Regions from separate parts of the Homo sapiens genome. Here region 2 is linked to region 1. A link means that fine-mapping ties the variant in region 1 to the expression of a gene that starts in the linked region. Tissue or cell type: prefrontal cortex. Region 1 holds a variant in brackets; the other region holds the start of a gene. All regions are shown on one strand. Distances are from middle to middle.

Region 1 (10,947 bases):
CAATAAACAAAACAGCATGGTACTGGTACAAAAACACACATAGACCAATAGAACAAAATACAGAACCCAGAAATAAAGTCATACGCCTACAACCATCTGATCTTTGACAAAGATGACAAAAATAAACAATGGAGACAAGACTCCCTGTTTAATAAATAGTGCTGTGATAACTGGCTACTCATATGCCAAAGAGTAACACTGGACCCCTACTTCTCACCATGTACAAAAATAACTCAAGATGTATTAAAAACTTAAATGTAAGACCTCAAACTTTAAAAATCCCAGAAGAAAACCTAGGAAATACCATTCTGGACATCAGCACTGACAAAGAATTTATGACTAAGTCCTCAAAAGCAATTGCAACAGAAACAAAAATTGATAAGTGGGACCTAATTAAACTAAAGAGTTTCTGCGCAGCAAAAGAAATTATCAATAGAGTAAACAGACAACCCACAGAATGAAAGAAAATATTCACAAACTATTAATCCAGTGAAAGTCTAATATCCAGAATCTATAAGAAACTTAAGTCAACAAGCAAAAAACAAATAACCCCATTAAAAAGTGAGCAAAGGACATGAACAGATACTTCTCAAAAGAAGACATATAAGTGGTCACAAAACCTATTGCTCAATATTGCTAATCATCAGCAAAATGCAAATCAAAACCACAATGAGATACCATCTCATACCAGTCAGAATGGTGATTATTAAAAATACAAAAAAAAAAATAGACACTGGTGAGGCTGTACACTGTTTGTTGGAATGTAAATTAGTCCAGTCACTGTGGAAGGCAATTTGGAGATTTCTTAAAGAATTAAAAACAGAACTACCATTTGACCCAGCAATCTCATTATTGGGTATATACTCAAGGGAAAATAAATAATTCTACAAAATTCTGTGGCATTAGCAGCATGCATATATGTTCATCATAGCACTGTTCACAATAGCAAGGATATGGAATCAATGTAGGTGCTCATCAATGGTAGATTGGATTAAGAAATAAAGTGGTATAGACACACCATGGAATACTACCCAGCCATAAAAAAGAAAAAAATCATGTCCTTTGCCGTAACATGGGTGCAACTTGAAGCCATCATCCTAAGTGAATTAGTGCAGTGAGAGAAAACCAAATACTACATGTTCTCACTTATAACTGGGAGCTAAATATTAGGTAATCATGGACATAAAGATGGTGACAATAGAAACTGGGGACTACTAGAAGTGGAAAGGGGAACGAGAGAAAGGGGTGAAAAACTACCTGTTGGGCACTATGCTCACTAGCTGGGTGACAAGATCATTCATAAACCAAATCTAAGTGTCACACAATATGCCCATGTAACAAATGTATACATGTAACCCCAAATCTAAAATGAAAGTTAAAATTATTAAAAACAATGCAACTCCAAAGTAAGAAAAAAATATATAATCCCCAAACTGCCCAATCAAACAATGGCAAAAGTCCTGAAGAGACACTTTACAGTGTTTTGGTGGCAAATAGTATATGAAAAGATGTTCAGCATCATTCACCATTAAGGAAATGAAAATGAAAATAATGACGCAATGCAATTGTACAACTATTAGTATGGTATTGTATTGCTGGTGGGATGACAAAATGGTACTGGCAATTTTGAGGAAAATTTGGCAGATTCTCAACAAAGTGTAACATAGTCTTATCATTACAATCTAGCTACCATGTTCCTAAGTATTTAACCAACTGACTTAAAAATGTATTTTTGGCCAGACTCCATGGCTCATGACTCAGCACTTTGGGAGGCTGAGGCAGGTGGATCGCCTGAGTTCAGGAATTCAAGACTCAACCTGGTCAGCATGGCAAAACCCCATCTCTACAAAAAATACAAAAATTAACTGGACATGGTGGTGCATGCCTGTAGTCCTAGCTACTTGGGAGGCCGAAGTGGGAGAATTGCTTGTGCTTTAGAGGCTGAGTTTGCAGTGAGCTGAGATCATGCCACTGCACTCCAGCCTGAGCAACAGAGCAAGACCCTGTCTCAAAAAAAAAGCATGTTCACACCAAATTCACATATGAATATTTTAATAGATTTATTCATATTCAACAGACACTGGAAGTAATGGAGATATAGTTTTACAAATGATTAAACAAACCTGGTACATCCATACAATGGTATATTGTACACCAGTGTAAAGGAATGAACTGTTCAGAAACATGAAAATGTGAATGAATCTTAAATGTATATTGCTACTGAAAATGACCAATCTGAAATGGCTACATGTTGTATGAGTCATGAAAAAACAAGGACACTTTGAGGAACTGTCATAGCATAAAGAAGCCTAAGAAGATATGGCTACTAGATGGAATAAGGTATTCTGGATGAGATCCCGAAATAGAAAAAGGACATTAAAGAAAAACTAAGAAACCAAAATTAACCTGAAATAAGTATGGATTTTAATTAATGATTGTATTAGTCCATTCTCATTCTGCTAATAAAGACACACCCAAGACTGGGTAATTTATACAGGAAAGAGGTTAAATTGACTCACAGTTCAGCATGGCTGCAGAGGCCTCAGGAAACTTACAGTCACGGTGGAAGGGGAAGTAAACATGTCCTTCTTCACATGGCAGCAGGAAGCAGAAGTGCAGTGTGAAGCCCCTTATAAAATCATCAGATTTCAAGAGAAATCACTCACTATCATGAGAACAGGATGGAGAAAACAGCCTCCATGATTCAATTATCTCCACCTAGTCCCTCCCATGACACGTGGGCATTATAAGACCTACAATTCAAGATGAAATTTAGATGGGGACACAGTTAAACCATATCAATTATAATGTATTAATGTTGATTCATTAGTTGTGACAAATGTTTCATATTAATGTAAGATGTTAACACAAAATGAAACTCAGTGTGGGGTATGTGGGAACTCTCCCTATTATATAAATTTATAATTTTATAGATCTAAAACTACTTTGTTTTATTTATTTTTTAAAAAGCCTATCAAATTTGTATCTAGACTCTTAGAGGAAGAGAGAATAGGGTAGAAAAAATACTTGAAAAAATCACGGATAAGAAATATCTAAACTTGATCATGGAAATGTAAGCATAGATTAAAGAATTTCTACTAACCCAATGCAAGAGGAATACAAGGAAAATAAAACACTTAGACACACCAGTGCAAACCAATGAAAACAAAAACAAAGGGAAAAACACACATTCTATTCAAAGAGGCAATAATAAGAATTTTAGCTAATTTCTCAGCATACAAAATTGGCCAGGCACAGTGGATGGCTCATACCTATAATGCCAGCACTTTGGGAGGCTGAGACAGGAGGATCTCTTAAGACCATGAGTTCTAGGTCAGCCTGGGCAACATTGTAAGACCCTGTCTCTACAAAAGAATTAAAAAAATATTAGCTGGGTGTGGAGCACATGCCTGTAGTCCCAGCTACTCAGAAGGCTAAGGTGTGAGGATCACTTGAGCCTGGGAGGTAGAGGCTGTAGTAAGCAGTGATTGCACCACAGCTCTCCAGCCTGAGAGACACAGCAAGACCCTATCAAAAACAACACACACACACACACACACACACACACACACCACAAAACCAAAATTAAGTCTGAAGACAACCAAATCAAATTACATAGAGAGTAGAATGATACACATTGGAGACTTGGAAGGGTCAGGGAGTGGGGAGAGGGGTGTGGATGATTAGAAATTATTTAACGGATACAATGTGCATTATTCAGATGATGGACACACTAAAAGCCCAGACTTCACCACTAGGCAAAACAACCACTTAATAAAAAATAGCATTTGTACCCTTAAATTTATACAAATTAAGTAAAAGAGATAACTGAAAGAAAATGCCTGTCATCTTTGAATTCTCTATCTAGAAATAACATACCAAAAAAGTTTAAAATGAAGGCAAAATGAAAATTTATATAAAAGAAAGACTGAGAGAATTCAGTGCCACCAAATGTACACTAAAAACCATACAATTTGTTAGTGTGTTAGGTTGTTCCTGCATTGCTATAAAGAAATGTCTAAGGTTGGGGTCATTTATAAAGAAAAGAGGTTTAATTGGCTTATGGTTCTGCAGACTTTACAGGAAGCATGGTGCTGACATCTGCTTCTGGTGAGGCCTCAGGGAGCTTCCAATCATGGCAGAAGGCAACAGGGAGCCAGCACATCACATGGCAAGAGCAGGACAAAGAGAAAAGGGAGGAGGCACCACACACTTCTAAACAACCGCTTCACTCATCACCAAGGAGATGGTGCTAGGCCACTCATGAGGGATTCATTCCCATGATCCCAACCCCACCCACTAGGCCCACCTCCAACACTGGGGATTACATTTCAACATGAGACTTAAAGGGACAAGTATCCAAACCACGTCAGTCAGTTTTAGGGATAGGAAAATCATTTCAGACAGATAAATATAAATGAAAGGAATAATGAATACAAATTTTTAAAAAATCTGTGATAAACCTAAACTGCATAAATCAATCATAATAACAATAATACCTTGTGAGTTTCAAAATGTATGTAGAATTTAAAAACGTGAATCCAACAAATCAAAAGACAGAAGAAATGGAATGAATTAAAATGTCTTAAATTGTTAACATTTTTAAGGTTATGATGAAAGCATTAATTTATCTTTAATTATTATGAATTATGAATCAAAGATGCACATCATAGTCTCCAGGGGAACTGAATAATAACATGCTAATGGAGGATGCTAAATCAAAATAATCTGTTAATGCAAGGATTCAACAGGAGGGAAAAATGAATGCAGCAAACGGAAACAAATCTGAACACAAACATATCACTAAAATCATCACACGTAAATTAACCAACATCCAATAAAAATTTAAGCTTTGTCAAACAAGATAAAATGTACAACTCAGCCACATAATGCTTACACTATAGGGATTTTAAATATGAAGACATTTCTTCATATTTAAAATATGGAAGAATAAAAGTAAAAGCCCAGGGAAGCATTATTCAGACAAGAAACAAAAGTAGGCTGGCGTTCTTTTAACAGATTTTATGGCAAAAAGTGCTTCAAAGTATACGATGATGTGACGAGAAAGCAAGTCTAAACAGCACATACAAGTGGAAAGCAAAAATTTGACAGAACCAAAGGAAGAAATATAAGAAATAGACAATCACAGTGGGAGATTTTCTCAAACCTCTCTTAACTGATAGAGCTCTGGCATAAAATGTTTAGGAATATAGGAGTTTTGCACTGCAGAAATACAGGCTTGATCCAAATGGCGTATTAGAACGCAGAAGCCAACAATCACAGAACATGGAATATGTCCCCAAATTGTCCACAAGCTTTACCACCCAGCCAATTGTAAGCCATTCAAATAATTGAAATCGTAGCGTATCTTCTCTTCTCGCTGTGGAATAAAACTAGGATGATGATGATGGCAACTGCATCACCCCTAAATGGACAGATTTAAAGAAATCGTCTTCTAAATAGAGCATGTCACAGAGCCATGCTGTAAATTATGAAATACTTTCATCTGAGTAATTATGAAAATACTATATATCAAAGACAGCTAGGCCAGGCACGGTGGCTTACACTTGTAATCCCAGCACTTTGGGAGGCTTAGGCGGGCAGATCACTTGAGGTCAGGAGTTTGAGACCAGCCTGGTCAACATGGTGAAACACTGTCCCTACTAAAAATACAAAACTTAGCTGGGAATAGTGGCGCACACCTGTAATCCCAGCTACTAGGGAGGCTGAGGCCGGAGAATCACTTGAACTGAGGAGGCTGAGGTTGCAGTGAGCCAAGATTGTGCCACTGCACTCCAGCTTGGGTGACAGCGAGACACTCCATCT[C/CAAAAAAA]AAAAAAAAAAAAAAGGCAGCTAAAGCCATATTAAGCCATATTTGAAAGGAAAATTATAGCAATAAATGCACATATTAGCAGAGAATTGCCCTGGACTTGGGGACTCAGGGTGACCTCCCTTTCCGCAGTGGCAGAGTAGTCGGACCTTCAGGCCTCCCCAGCTTCTTTCCTGGCCAGGGAAGGGTTTCTGGCCTCCCAGTCACACAGGGGCTTCTAAGCTCTGCCCAAAGACCTGGCAGCCAGGCAGGGCTCAGCTTGCTGGGGATGTGGTGGGGTAGGATGAAGGAGGGAGAAGGACAAGATGTGTGTGTTAAGGAACAGAAAGGGGTTGTGGCTCTGTCCTGCCCCTTCCCCGGGTTCTGAAGTGTGGTGGGGCTCAAGCCATGATCCCTCAGTCCAGCAGAAATCTGTTCCAGTGGCCTAGCATCTCCGCACACAGGACAGACTCCACTCCAGCCCCTTAGGCTCTCCCTCCTCCCGCACGTGCTGGTTCCTTACTCACTGTAAGTGAGATCTCTGTACAAGATAGTGAGAAACATCAAACCTTGGCATCTACACCCTGGAGCTCTGACACTTGAAGTGGGAATTGCAATTCTCCCAGCAAGGATCTTACCTAGGACCCTTTCCTCTTATTTATTTACTTATTTATTTTTGAGACAGGGTCTCCCTCTGTTACCCAGGCTGGAGTGCAGTGGCGCAATCATAGCTCACTGCAGCCCCAATCTGCTGGGCTCAAGCGATCCTCCTGCCTCAGTCTTCTGAGTAGCTAGGACCACAGGCCCATGTCACCACATCCCACTATAAATATATATTTTGGTAGAGATGGGGTCTTGCTATGTTGCCCAGTCTGGTCTCGAACTCCTGGTCACAAGCAATCCTCCTATCTTGGCCCCCAAAAGTGCCGGGATTACAGATATGAGCCACCTCAACCGACCCCCTTCCTCTTAAATTGCCCTCCCTGCCCCTCCCTGGAAGCCACAGTCTTTTGGCCACACATTGATCCCACAGATATTTGCCAGGTATCAACTCAGGTGAGGCCCTGGGCTGAGAAATTGGGAAAATGGCAGCCGACCCCCCAACCCCCTTCTCTGCATGACGACCTTCAGAAGAGGGGCTCAGAAGTGTGGCAGTTTGCAATCCACAGTGAGATGGAGAAGAGGAGAAGGGGAGGAGAAAAGGGTTCCAGAGGAGTGGGGGGCTCTGTGACCCAGGAGGGGCACCCTGGAGAGACAAAAGCCTGCACAGAGGAGGTGGCAACAGACAATCCCAGGCTCTGGTCAGAACTCTCCCACCTGCGCACGTAACGTGGGTGCCTTTCATTGTATAATTACACTCACTAAAGTTGACTAAAAACAAGCCGTGGAGAAAACACATAGAGGATCTTTTCTTGTCTAATAGTAGATTAAACAAGCTCCAGGCCACACAAAACATATTTTCTATGCGTTTCATCCAGTTTTCAGAACATGTATGAGACGTTTCTTTTAAACATCATTTTGTTTGTTGAAAATTCTTAAGCTTCCTCAGCGACCCAGAGCTGGAAACCCTCCCACAAACGCATTCTTTGATTTGGGACCTTAGGGGCCCCTCCTCTTTTTCCTTGGAAATGCTTATTCACCTCATCCCCAGCACAGCAGGGCTCAAGATAAACGAGATCATCTTTCCTCAAGTCTCTTGCAACAAGAAAGAGGGGGAGGAAAATCAATATGTGTGATCATCATTCTTCTCCATCCGCCGTAAATAGGCTGAGGAGGGTCATTATTCATCTCCGCTGGCGAAAATCGGATTATAAGTGCTGGGGAAGCTGAAAGCAAATTTCAAGACCAAAATATGTTCCTTCCTCCATGGCTGAACTGCCTGCTGCGGGATTTTTAATTGCATTTGCCCGTTTCGAGATGTACGGCATGATTCCAGGCTTGGATCTTGGGTCTGTAGTTTCTAGGCTGTCATTCTTACCTTTTAATCAGTTATTAAAATGACTATATGGCAGCTTTCCTATATAGAAATCATGGGTTTTTTTTTTTTTTTTTTTTGAGACGGAGTCTCGCTCTGTCTCCCAGGCTGGAGTGCAGTGGCGCGATCTGGGCTCACTGCAAGCTCCGCCTCCCGGGTTCACACCATTCTCCTGCATCAGCCTCCCCAGTAGCTGGGACTACAGGCGCCCGCCACCACTCCAGGCTAATTTTTTTATATTTTTAGTAGAGACGGGGTTTCGCCCTGTTAGCCAGGATGGTCTGGATCTCCTGACCTCCTGATCCGCCTGCCTCGGCCTCCCAAAGTGCTGGGATTACGGGCGTGAGCCACCGTGCCTGGCCCATGGTTATTATAAATGGAGTATTATTATTATTAGAGGAAAGCATGGAATTATATATGGAAAGGCATATTTTCTGGTACCGCTTTGCCACCAGACAAAAAATGCAAAGAGCCCCTGCGGATATGTAAGAAATTGTCCAGCTCCCAGTGCCCTCAACCCAGTGCCCAGGAATGAATTAACCCCACAGCACCCTTGCGAAGAAAGGCAAAGCAAGCAAAGTTTCACTGGGCCTGGACATGAAGTTAAAGAATTAATACTATGTGACGGGTAGGTTGGCAGAAGCACAGAATATACACGTGGACTCTATTTACACCAGCACTGTGGTGGAGTGACCTTTAGTTGCAGCTCAAGTGCCTGAGGCATCCATGGTGACACGGGCAGGTGAACGTAGCATAGACTATACGGCATCCACTGTGCACCCAAGTCTAGGTTAGTGTGTTGGTTTCCGAGAAAAAATAAAAAGATACATGCTACCGTTCGAAAAGTTTGCAGCCTTGGCTGGGAAGACAAGGCACAGCCACATAGAAAGCGTAGGGCTGTGGGCTATTCTTTTTATAAAGGTGATGCTTTGTACCATATTCTCCTTATATTTACTCACTCCTCAACAAGCACACCCTCCCACGCTCACACTCCTCCTTCCACTTGAGCTACTTAAACTAGACATAATGTATGGTGTCTTCATCATGATCTATATTTAAATTATAGTGACACATTACCAAGATTCAGGGTCTGCATTTCTCTTGCTGTGGTGAGAGAGAATCTTGATGAGGTACAAGGCAGTATTTTGTGTCTTTGCATTCTTACTGTCAAAGCAGAGGGCACGAGTGACCGACAGCACTTTGAAGGTAAAAGCAGACTGCATGTCTTCACATTTCACAGAACTCGGTCCTTTTGTCAACAAGATATTAAACTTTCTCTGGCTTACTTTGAAAACTTCTGCTATGTTTTAAGTGCCTTATTTGGAAATCAACAAATAAAAGTTTCCCTAGCCTTTTTCTCCTATTATTTCCCTCCCCAAATTGTTTTTTTAAAGATAATTAAGCCACAACTGCCTTATGATGCTGGGTTTTCCAGAGAGGAATTCAGTAAGAGATGAATTGCCCTTGAGCTCTATCTGTGGGTCCTTCCTTCCTCCCTCCCTCTCTCCTCCCTCCCTCCTTCCCCACTTCCTCCCTCCTCCCCCACTTCCTCCCTCCCTCCTTCCCCTCTCCCTCCCTCCCTCCTTCCCCCCTCCCTCCCTCCCTCCCTCCCTCCCTCCCTTCCTTCCTTCCTTCCTTCCTTCCTTCCTTCCTTCCTTCCTTCCTTCCTTCCTTCCTTCCTTCCTTCGTTCCTCATGATGCCTACTGTGACTGCGCCCCTTCCTAGTGCCTGGGGAAACAGTGTTGAAAGTGACAGCTTAGGATCCTGGTCTCATGCAGCTTACAGCCTAATGCAGGGATTCAGTCAATAAAACAAGGAAACAGACTATTGTTAGACTGTGATAATGCTGGGATGGAAGGGTAAAAAGAAGCCAATCTGATGGAGACAGACTAGAATGGGGGTGGTTGGGCTATCTTATTAGGGTGAACAGAGAAGGCTTTTCCTAGGAGGTGACATAAGGGATCCTTCTTCTAAAGGAAAAGGATAAAAAAAGAACCCAGCCATATGCAGAGGGTTCAGGCAGAAGCAGCAGCAAGTTCAAAGGTCCTAAGATGGGATGGGCATGGACTGATTCAAAAATGAAAGACAGGCTTCAATAGTGTCAATAGCTTGACCGTAATGATTACTTACTACCTGGCCAATTATCAAAAAGCTATTTATTGATAATATTGAGAAAAACCAAAGCATATGCTCAGATAATAGGGATATATCGGTTTGCTTATATTTCTTCTCTAACAAGCCTTATCGTTATTTTCATAGGAATATAGAAATAATATTCTAAACTACCGATGGCTTAATATACTTTGCTGAAACAGCTTAGACCCTTGTTTCAAATCATTTTCCTTCCAAAAACAACCTACACACAAACTATTTGCTTTGTTAGTCAGAACAGAACAGAACTGGAATTAGTCACTCATGATAGGTATGAGTCACTTATAAGCCTGTTTTTCTTTTTCCTATTTGTATCTGCAATAATCAGATGAAAATCAACCCCAGCATTATCCAAGAAATTCTATAAATTAAGGCGATATTAATACCCTTGTTCTTTCCCTAGTGATGGTGGTTCTCACCTTTTTTACTGTTCATGCATATTTTCATTCTTTCAAAAGCTGATTTCATTTCTTCCAGTCAAATGCCTCTATTTTTCCACCAAGCTGCTAATATGTTTGCCTTTTAAACCAAGCTAAGCCTGGTTTTTATCTGGACAATTGAATTGTATAACATGTGTCTTGCAACAAAACAAGCTCTGCCAGAAAAGGCAGCTGCAGAAACTCAGGCAAAGATGTACCTAGTACTAGCATTTGCTGAGTACAGCGAGAACAAAGGAGAATGAAATGCTGGCGTGCTAATTTATAAGAAAAATTAAATCCGCACACGATATGTTAATGGCTTTAAAACAGGCTTCCCGACAGGCGCGGTGGCTCAAGCCTGTAATCCCAGAACTTTGGGAGGCGGAGGTGGGCGGATCACTTGAAGTCAGGAGTTTGAGACCAGCCAACGTGGCGAAACCCTGTCTCTATTAAAAATACAAAAAAAAAAAAAAAAAGAAAAAGAAAAAATTAGCTAGGTATGGTGGTGCGCATCTTTAGTCCCAGCTACTCGGGAGGCTGAGGCACAAGAATCACTTGAACCTGAAAGGCAGAGGTTGCAATGAGCCGAGACAGTGCCA
Region 2 (10,947 bases), 35 kb before region 1:
GTAGAAACAGAACTACATTAGAACTATGAAGATGTTCTAGGTCCTAATTATAGTAGCAATAATAATAAAATTAATGGCTCATATTTATTAAGCTCTCAATGTGTGCCAAGCACTGTTTTAAGCATATTTGCATGTTAACTCATTAATACTACAAAATGCCTCTGTAATGTGGGTGTTACAATTCTCACTCACCATGAGCAAAATAAGGCACAGAGTTTCCAAGCACCCTGCTGCAAGGCAAGCAGTGCATAAGTCACAGAACCAAGGTCTTAACCAGGCCACTGTGTCCACAGTCTTATCTCCTACTTTGCCTTTCATGAACTGGCTTTGCTTGAAGTCAGTACCTGAATGTTGTTTCTCTTTAACTCCGCTCTAGTAACTCACCAGATCTGTATGCCCTTCCCAAGTTACAAAACACTTGCAGCCACAGTTATGTTATTTCATTTTCTCAACAAGCCTTTGGAAAGGGTGAGATAGCAATATTACCCATTTGTGTGGAAACTAAAGCTCAGAGGGGTTTGTTTTGTCTTAGAGACTTCACAATGAAGTATGGGAGACACTCCTGCTATAACTCAATGGCTCCCAACTGAATACAGGCTGCTAAGCTCAACTTGGACCTACCTGAGATGCCCTTTGATGACAGATGCATGTTATTGCACCTGCAATATTTCTCAGTCAGAAAGATGATATGATTCTATGTGTCCAGCTTGTCTTGTGCACACCCGTTTTCTACTGTTTGTGTTCTAGAATGCCAACTGTTTGCTTCATTATTGTTTCAAGGATCTATCACCCCATCATAAACTACTCCAAATTAGGAGCTTAAAGCAATCATTTATTTGCTCACCACTTTTGTATCAGCAATGCAGACAAGCTAGGATGAGAGGGGCTTTCTCTGCTCCACGATGTTTGGATCCTTGGCTGGGATGTCACAAATAGTGGTGACTCAACTGGGATCACACACCTCAGGCCTCTGTGGTCACTGGCGGCCTGGTTACTTGGGTCATCCCTATCCACATGGCTTGTGTGAGCTTCCTCACGGCATGGCAGCCGCATAGTGGCTGGAGTTCTTACACAGTGCCTGGTTTTCCCCAGAGAGAAAGCAAAAGCTGTTGGACCTCTTATAGACGGTGACTGGAATCATCACAGTGACCCGTTACCACCTTCTCTTGTTCAAGGTAAGTTATACTGCTAGCCCAGATACAAAGGGAGGAGAAATTGACTCCCTTTCTTAACAGTTTGAGTGTAATGTGCGTAGAAAGAGGAATAATATTTATGATAGCCATCTCTGGAAACTATCATAACAATTAGATCTCTTATTAAAAAATTAATATAAGCATTTGATAAAAAATTCAAATCGTGTAGATATATCTACTGCATCCAATGCTAAGAGATCTTTGTGATTTATGCACTGTGCACTTGCATTGCATAGAGAGAGGGAAGATGTGGGATTTCTTTTTGCCCAAATAGAAACATACTATATATGCTCTTCTGCACTTTATTTTTATATGGGGGCAGGATGTAGGTCTGATTAACTTTTGCATTTCTGCCATACTGCCAAGTCTATTTGTGGAAATGTGTTTTTTAGTAATGTTTTCCAAAGGTATTAAATTAGGAGACACAAACTCCAATGCCCATAGCAGCCTAACAAGTGATATAAATGAGTGTCAGAAACCAGGCTAAGGCAATTGGGAGTGGTGGGGACTGCGGTGTCCTGAAGATCTAATGCCACCTCTGAGGCAAGCAGCTGCTACTCTGCTCCTGGCCTTTGCTGCTATGCAGAAACACAGGCCCAGCATTGCCACATCTTCTAAACTTTTAAAGAGTAGCCTGAAACCCAGGACCCTGCATATAAAACCCCCTGAACTTTGGCTATTGAAAACCAATGTGATTTTAAAAGCAATGACATGTAGGCCAAGAAAATATACCTATAGGCTGCATTCAGCCTTGAGTCCGCCAATTTACACCTTCTACAATGTTCTCATTGAGGAACCCCAGTGGGTACCATGACTCCCTCCTTCTAAGCTGTCTTTCCTAGGTTTCATCTTCCCACATATGGGCAATGTTAGAGGCACTTCTGCCTCATTTTATAAAATTTGGCCATTTTCTACCAGGCCTTAAAGAGAAGAAGAGATGGAGTTAAGTGAGAAAAATATGGCTATGTGGGGAGTAAAGTGAATATTCCAAAAGTAAGTATCCTCTGGGATTGAAGAACGAACGAAGTGGACAATTATTCAAGTGACTCTTCTGTCTAAACTGGCCTTGGGTAAGAAAATATGCCCGTAGGCTGCTCTGTATTTTTCTACTCTGGGTGGCCTAGCAGCCTACCTGGCCCAGGTGATGGCTTTCAGGGACCACACTTTAGCTGGGCAATGCACAGCTTTTCCGGGTTGTTATGTACAATTTCAGACTAACCCTCAAGGTCTACCCAGGATGATTAATCTTGAAATAATTTCAGATGCCATTTATTATGGCTTGGAGCTTAGGAATATCTTCAGACCCATTGATGGGAACACTGACTCCTGAGCACAGTCATTTGAGGTGTCTTTAAACAGAAAATTTCAATGTTATCTCAGTTGGGACACACTTTTTCAAAAGCACGATCGGTTGCCAAGAATAACAGGACTTCATATTGCAGAGTGAATTCAGAGGATCAAACTCCAGGAGCCTTCGGATGTCTGATTATTGGATCATCCTGTCTGGCTGCATAAGATGCATCCACGATATTTACTTGGTGCCCACAATATTCCAGGATTGTCCTAGTTGCTTATACGTATTTGTTCTGATTTTATTGGTGTGTAAAGGAGCCCTTGCCATCTTTTCTTTTTTTTTCTTTCTTTCTTTTTTTTTTTTTTTGAGACGGAGTCTTGCTCTGTCACCCAGGCTGGAGTGCAGTGGCGCAATGTCGGCTCACTGAAAGCTCCGCCTCCCGGGTTCACGCCATTCTCCTGCCTCAGCCTCCCGAGTAGCTGGGACTACAGGTGCACGCCACCACGCCTGGCTAATTTTTTATATTTTTAGTAGAGACGGGGTTTCACCGTGTTAGCCAGGATGGTCTAGATCTCCCGACCTTGTGATCCGCCCGCCTCGGCCCTTGCCATCTTTCTACTTGAAAATGAGATTGAAAGTTGTTTCAGCTCAGATCTGAACTAAACACTTTTTATGAACCAAAAGTTCCCACCCGCGGGGCTTAAGAGTTGCATTAGTGCCAAATAATTGACTTAATTATTTTTAGCTTAATGAAAAATGTCTCATTTTCTACTTGATTGATTGATTCTGTATCCTTTTAAAAATTTTTTTGGTATGACACAACTGTCTGAACTATGTCTAGCTCTGTTTATATTCTGACTTGGAGGAATTCTGGGAGCCAAATCATAGCTAAACGTGTGAATCTTCACTAATCGAAATGGGTGGAATTTTCTGTAAAGATGCAAACTGGCTTGACTGTGTCCAGTTATTGCTCCTGAATCCTAACTGCAGTGAATGGAGGGAGGGGCAGTGTACTACGCGAGAGGGTGGGTCCTGAAAACTAGACATCCCTGGGTGCTAGCCCTGTGTTGAACCTCTTTCTCGTGCAGATTTGGACAAATATTTATTCTGCACTTTAGTTTCCTTATCTGTAAAATGAATATGATAAGAATTATGTTTACTTACAATATAAACCTCTTCAATGAGTAGAAGCAGTGAGAGACATAGTATAAGTAATCAATACACGCTAAATGTCTCAGAAGTCATCTTAGAACATTAGTAGAATGTATTTTTTATAGTTTGATTTTAAATTCACAAATAGTAACTGTATATATTTATAGAACAAAATGTGATGTTTTGATACCTGTATACATGGCGGAATGATCCAATTAGGCAACTTAGTATATCATCACCTCAAATATGTATCATTTCTTTGTTATATGAACATTACGTGTTTTTGGACTAAGTGAAACAGAGACTGTTTGGAAAGCCATAGAAAGTAGCCACCCTCTTTTTATCCTCACACCAAAGAAAAGCTGACCACTTGCTAACCAGCCCACTTATTTCACCTTAAAGTAAATTGAATCTGGAACCCTGGATCATTCTATGAAATTTTCCAAAAAGCTAGTCAGAGGCCGGGCACCGTGGGTCACACCTGTAATCCCAGCACTTTGGGAGGCTGAGGCACGCGGATCACCTGAGGTCAGGAGTTCGAGACCAGCCTGGCCAACATGGTGAAACCCTGTCTCTACTAAAAATACAAAAATGAGCCAGGCTTGGTGGCGGGTGCCTGTAATCCCAGCTACTCAGGAGGCTGAGGCAGAATAGCTTGGTCCCGGGAGGCAGAGGTTGCAGTGAGCTGAGATCCCGTCATTGCACTCCAGCCTGGGTGACGAGAGTGAAACTCCATCTCAAAATAATAATAATAATAATAATAATAATAATTAAAATCTAGTGAGAAAGCAAAGTAAACTCAAGGAAGTCCTGGCTTTGCGATTTTGTTTTGTTATTCCTAAGCACTGCCTCACCTGCTCTAGCGTGGGAGCTGAGTCGTCAAGGGGAAAGACAATGAAATTGCTCTAAGTTATCATCTCTCCAGGCATTGTTCTGTAATAACTGTCACTGTTAACAGAAGAGGCCTCCCTCCTGCAGTGGGAATACCAGGGGTGGGCACTGTCAAGAGACCCAGCTTTGACTTCAAATGCCACCCAGAGGGACAACTGCTCACTTTCAGAGCAGGAGCAGGAGGCCAGAGGAGAGTGTGAGTCTAACATCTGCACAGTGAGAAGTCCAGGAGAAGCAAAAATGAGATCCAGGCTGGAGCGGCTGTGCCAGAGTAACTGTTCCAGCGGGTGTGGGGGAGGGTCCCCCAAAAAGACTTACCTGGACTGAATGGGAAATAATAGAAAATAGGAGCAAGAGACTGTCACTTTATAATAGGTTCTGTTATGACCTCCTACAACAATATGTTAGAAATTATGATTTCTAATATGTCTATGATACAGATAGACATATAGTTAGAAAACTAAATAAAGAGACAGATTTTGAGCTAGGTATACTTACAGATACAGACATTGATATCATAGATAAACATGTTCTTTATTTTTATATTGTCAATGTTTGTGTTGCTGGAAAAAGGGGTCCCTATGATCCAGACCTCAAGAGAGGGTTCCTGGACCTCCCACAGAAAGGGATTCAAGGTGAGTTGTAGAGTGTAGTGAGAAGAGATCATTTATTGAAAATTCTTCAGATTCAGAGTAGGGTGTCCTCAGAAAGCAAGAGGAGGAATGCCCTGTCTTTGTTTTAAACTCTTCTTACACAGGGGTCTCATCTACATAAAAGCTAAGCTATCTCTGTGTGTGGGTGGGCTGACAATGTGACAAGATGTAGTACTTTGGCCATTTAAAGAAAGTTATCCTTGGCATTTTAGTTTATAAGTACATGAAAGCATGATTGTACATTTCTTAAAAGCATATATTGTTATGTGATATTGGGACATGTGGACTTTCTGCTGTTGTAGGAGTTTGTCCTTGCAGGCATTGCCAAGCGGTTTCCTCTGCAGTAAACATCTTATGACCACGGGTCATAACTGGCAAGGAATGTGTGTTGCGAGTTTAAAGATGGAGTTAATTTTAAAATGGTGACACCTGGCTCTCTAGGCGCCTGCTTTTCTAACTTTTCTAGGTATAAACCTAATCTTCCTTGCTAGATCACAACCTCCAATGATCTATTTTTCATCTTCAGTTGTCCCAAGCACTAGCTTGTTCTGCGAGCGTCTCGTGGTCATGGAAAACTGATAAAGCACAGCATGAGAGGCTCAATGGATAAGAAATTATAAAGAATCACTAAATTTGCATAGGTGTTTTGATTGTGACCTACCGAGGAAGGAAGTGGAGAGGGTGTGTGGGAGGGAGGACAGCAGATGTGTAGACACGGCTTCATTTGCCTCCCACCGGGAATTTTGCCCGAGACTTATGGAGAGAATGGCCATTGGCAGAGACTGAAAGAGTTGATTTGATTCTCTGAGGCCTGATGCACTTGGTGAATTGTTTTGGGGTCTCTGTGGCATTAGGATAGGGGCTTTTTTTCTTTTTGTTTGTTTTGTTTTGTTTTTTTGGTCAAATGTCCTGTGTTTCAGGTTTCAACCAAGACTTTGGGAAACCAGGACTACTTGAAACCCTGATGGACTGCAGTGTTCAAAGAAGGAGGGAACAAAACCCTCTGGAAACCTCTGGAATTAGTGGCTGGGAAATAGCCCTTGGTTACTCTATGGACAGCAGATGTCCCAGACAGAGCCAGAGCCTAAGAACATGGGAGGTTTTTTCGTTGTGGTTTTTGTTTCTGTTTTGAGACAGAGTCTCGCTCTGTCACCCAGGCTGGAGCACAATGGCATGATCTGGGCTCACTGCAACCGCTACCTCCTAGGTTTCAGCGATTCTCATGCCTCAGACTCCCGAGTAGGTGAGATTATAGGCGCCCACCATCACGCCTGGTTAATTTTTATTTTTTATAAAAATGGGGTTTCACCATGTTGGCTAGGCTGGTCTCAAACCCCTGACCTCCAGTGATCCACCTGCCTTGGCCTCCGAAAGTGCTGGGATTACAGAGCCGCTGTGCCTGGCTAACATGGGAGGTTTTTAAATATCTGTGTTTCCAGAATGAACCGGTGAGTCTTTGAAGTCCTTGTATGAACAGGACTGGGCACAAGTCAACCAGAATAATTTGCAGACATGCAAGCTGTTTGTATCCAGCGGATCAATAGCAACCTGTTTTAGCTTTCCATCTTTCTTTAAGGAAATGTCCTATCTCCAATACTACTGTGAAATTCTAGAGCATAAGAAGAGAATAAAGTCTTGATGTACGGTTTGGTTGGTAGGCAGAGCTCCACCCCACCATCTCCTTGGTGACAGTGCCCCACTCGTGAGAAGGGTACTGTTTCTTCCCTGGTGTTAGTGTTACCTAGTATAATGCCTATGTGACATAGCTGAATTTCTACCCTATCCTAACTCTGCTACTCTTTAAGGATGCCTGCAATAAAAAGTTCCCTTTTTAACCAGACCAGCTGAAACTGATTAGAGCCAAGATAGCCAACCAAATGACTTCAGGAAGACCTCAGGCTTCATTATCATCTCATTTCCATGCTAAAAAAACCCAGCTCCCTAGAACAATGGGAAATATTGGGCACTTCATCAGGCGAGTTCAGGTGCATTTCTAGAGATTGTCCAGGTGAGTCAAAGAGCAAATGCCATGAAGTAGCCTCAGCCCTTTGGGTCATGGGAAACCATTTTTGAAATAATATTACATATTTGTCAGAGTTTGAGCTGGGCAAGGGATTAGCCTTTTCTCCAACTTCACAATCAGATTAAGAGGAAACAAAGCCTCAGGACAAATTCTGCCATACACATGAGTATTTGATAATTAATACATATTATCAATAGGAACACAGCGGTCCATACATTCTGTAAACTGTACGATACCCAGATCCTCTATCCTTGTAAGTGATCCAACTACACATTCTGTAATGGTCTCTCAGGCTGCAATAACAAAATGACACAGCCTGGATGGATTAAACAACAGAAAGGTATATCTCATAGTTCTGGAGGCTGGAGGTCAAAGACGAAGGTGGGGTGCTGGCTGGCTCAGTTTCTTCTGAGGTCCCTCTGCTTGGCGTGCAGATGCCACCTTCGTACTGTGTCCCAGCTTGGTCTCTTCACTGTGCGTATCTCTCATGTCTCTTCCTCTTCTAGGAACACAAATCAAACTGGATTAGGCTCCATTGTTAGGACCTCCGTTAATCTTCATTAGTTCTTTAAAGGACCCTATATCCAAGTACAGTCACATTGGAGGTTCAGACTTCAACACATGAGGCCTGGCGTGGTGGCTCATGCCTCCAATCCCAGCATTTTGGGAGGCCAAGGTGGGTGGATCACCTGAGGTCAGGAGTTCGAGACTAGCCTGGCCAGCATGGTGAAACCCTGTTTCTACTAAGAATACAAAAATTAGTTAGGTGTGGTGACACATGCCTGCAATCCCAGCTACTTGGGAGGCTAAGGCCGGAGACTTGCTTGAATCTGGGAGGTAGAGGTTGCAGTGAGCAGAGACCACCTCACTGCACTCCAGCCTGGGGAACAGAGCAAAACTCCATCTCAAACAACAACAAACAACAACAACAACAACAAAAAGAAAACAAAGACTTCAACACATGAGTCCTTCAACACATAACACATGCCATAAAAGATCCCCATGGGACAGTTATGACAATGTTCTAAAAGAAGAAATCCATCACAGTTGGCATCTGGCAACCTGAATTTGCCATCTCAGTGACTGGATGGAGGGTGGTTTAGGGGTTTGACTTCATGTGCTCTCCCTACAAGTATAGAGTATGGGGCTTATGAGATGGTGAGACCTTGTTTTGCAGGTGTGAGGAGTGACTGATTCAGTTTATTCCATCTGCCTTTCTCGTCAATGAAAGCCCATTTTCTACATCCATGTTGCTAGAGAACACACCACTACACTTTCCAAGGAAATAGCATTTCTAGATGAATTACACTAGCTAGTGAGACCTCCAGTGTTGAGCAGACATAGAAAATGGCAGCTGACAGGCTTTAGTGAGAACTTCTGGACTGTGGACTTTCTAATTGGGCATTTGCTAATCAATGCAGGAATGTGAGTGTTTGATTACTGAAACTGCTACCCCAGGAGGTGAATTAAAACTAATTACCTTCATAGAAGCAGAGAGTATAAGGATGGTTGCCAGGGCCCGCAGGGAAAGGAAAATAGGGAGATATTGGTCAAAGGGTACAAAATCTCACTTATGCAGGATAAATAAGTTGTGGAGATCTATGTACTGCATTGTGACTATAGGTAATAATCCTGTATTATATACTAGAAATTTGCTAAGGATTGAAATATTAAATGCTCTCACTAAACACACACACACACAATGGTAATTATGTGAGATGAGATATGTTAAATAGCTCGATTGTGGTAATTATTCCACAATGCATATGTATTTCCAAACATCATGTTGTACACCTTAAATGTCTACAATTTTATTTATCAATTGTATATGGATAAAGATAGAAATTTAAATAAAATATATACTCTTTTACATCGCATTGTCAGAACTAAAGAAGAAAGGAGACTTCCAACATCATGACATGAATCGTTTCTGATGATGTCTAAATCTCCTCACAATTCCAACATCAGTTCCACTTTCCTTGAGAAAAATAAACCAGAATCTTTGTTTGGCTATAATGTTTCCGACAGTCTGAAAAAGAAAGGACTATCTTATTAGTAGCATCCAGAATTTTAGTTTTGCATATTAAGAAAGGTGCCGAACACCCTAATCTCTCTTTTTATGTGGATTATGGACCCAGGGAATTTGATACCCATTCTGAGAAATTGTGTAAAATTGAGTAATTCCAATTAGGTCTTTAAATTGAACAATGGTGACAACACCAGCTCTTTTTCCCTAGTAAAATAAACAAGGAAATATTTAAAGAAGGAGGATGCTTGTGTGGTAAGAGTTATTAAGAAATTATTTTAGGCGGATAGAGATAAAAAGGGGTACTTGGGAAATTTTCATTTTTAAAGACATTTCCTGTCTAGCTGGAAAGCCCCAGCTGTTAGAGCCAGGTGGGCAGCCTTTGATAAGCAAATGAGAGCCATTAGAAACTAGGTCCACCCACACATGGGGATTCTGGCTGCCTTCTTGCCCTTGCCCCACATGTTCCTGGCAACATGGCCACCCCCACATATCCCCACGTGTGTGGAACATCATGGCGGCCTGTATTTGCATATTCAAAGGCTAGGGTGGGAGGGTCAGTTTTTTCCAGGGCTACGTAAATGACATGCCTGGTCAAACCTATCCCCTAAGCCCTATGCAAATCAGACACCGCCTCCTCCAGCCTCTACATATACCTGGCAGGTATCCACCCAACTTGGGGTTTCCTCTTTTGGGTTTGGAGACTCCTCCTCTCTGTCTCTGTACGAGGGAGCTTCTTGCTTTTGTCTTCTCCCTTCCTTCTTGCCTATTAAACTCTCCGCTCCTTAAAACTACTCCACGTGTGTCCCTGTAGTTTTTTTCTAATTTGACTTGAGAAGAAGAATCTGGTGTTCCTCCACTAATCAGAGCCATATCACCTTCAGGTGCTGGTAACAATAATAGAGAACCATCCATATCCACAAGAGGCAGAACCTCTTCCAGCAAAATGGTGCTGCCTCACCCAAAGGTAATTAGTGGCTATCGGGGCAGACAATTGTTGATGTTGTTCATGTCCCAACTCATTTGTTGGGCTCACAGTAACAAATTTTATTTTGATTTAGTTATTTTTATAACCTGGGGATTTTAATGAGGCTTTCCTTCTGACCAGTTAGAGCATCAGAAACCCACCCTCTTCCCTGCTGCTGTCATTAGGAACCAGGAGGCACATGAGTGGGGCTTCTCCAAGCCTCTTCACTCCATCCCTCTGACCATGGTGGCCACAGTTAAGTGTTAGGATTTTGAATAGGTTGAGCTGATTATTATGAATTTTCAATAAGGTGGAGCTGATTATTAGTATGAGTTCTGGGACTCCTAAGAAATTACCAGATAAAGATACTACATTTTTTCCTCAGGTATCACTAAGCATATAGATTATAGAAGCCTGAGATGGTGAGTGGAATCTGAAAATGAAATCTAACATTTACCAAAGATACAGAGAAGGAGGAAGAGACTGGATTCGTTGTTCCGGCCCCTGAGTCTAGTCAGTCAGTTCTACTCTTGGGCTTTGTAGTTCTGTTCATCAGTGAACTCTTCTGTTTTGTTGAAACCAGTTGGAGAAGGGTTTCCAGAAACCTGCACTTGAAGAGCATCAGCTGGCACAGAGATCTTGGCTGAACCCACTGCTGTGTTTGACTAGGAATGAGAGTGGGCACACGGAGAGGGCAGCCCACCAGGCAGGTGTGTCTCACATCACTGGGGAGCCCTTTTCATTCAAA

Evidence for each region.
Region 2: LINC02347 starts here. The variant in region 1 is fine-mapped to the expression of LINC02347 in prefrontal cortex (BrainSeq, PIP 0.95).

The regions. Positions count from the first base shown.
Region 1 is chr12:126,473,162-126,484,108 of GRCh38, forward strand. No RefSeq gene overlaps it. Among named protein-coding and RNA genes, the nearest start is that of LINC02825, 29 kb to the left of the region's middle. RefSeq lists a silencer at 7,302-7,596. The variant C/CAAAAAAA (reference allele first, on the strand shown) is at 5,827.
Region 2 is chr12:126,437,863-126,448,809 of GRCh38, forward strand. It overlaps LINC02347 (long intergenic non-protein coding RNA 2347), which reads left to right and starts at 4,619. Exons shown (of 12, transcript NR_130748.1): 1 at 4,619-4,726; 2 at 5,104-5,165; 3 at 7,023-7,191; 4 at 10,117-10,199. LINC02825 (long intergenic non-protein coding RNA 2825) reads right to left here. Exons shown (of 4, transcript NR_147498.1): 2 at 7,558-7,708. RefSeq lists an enhancer at 10,141-10,947.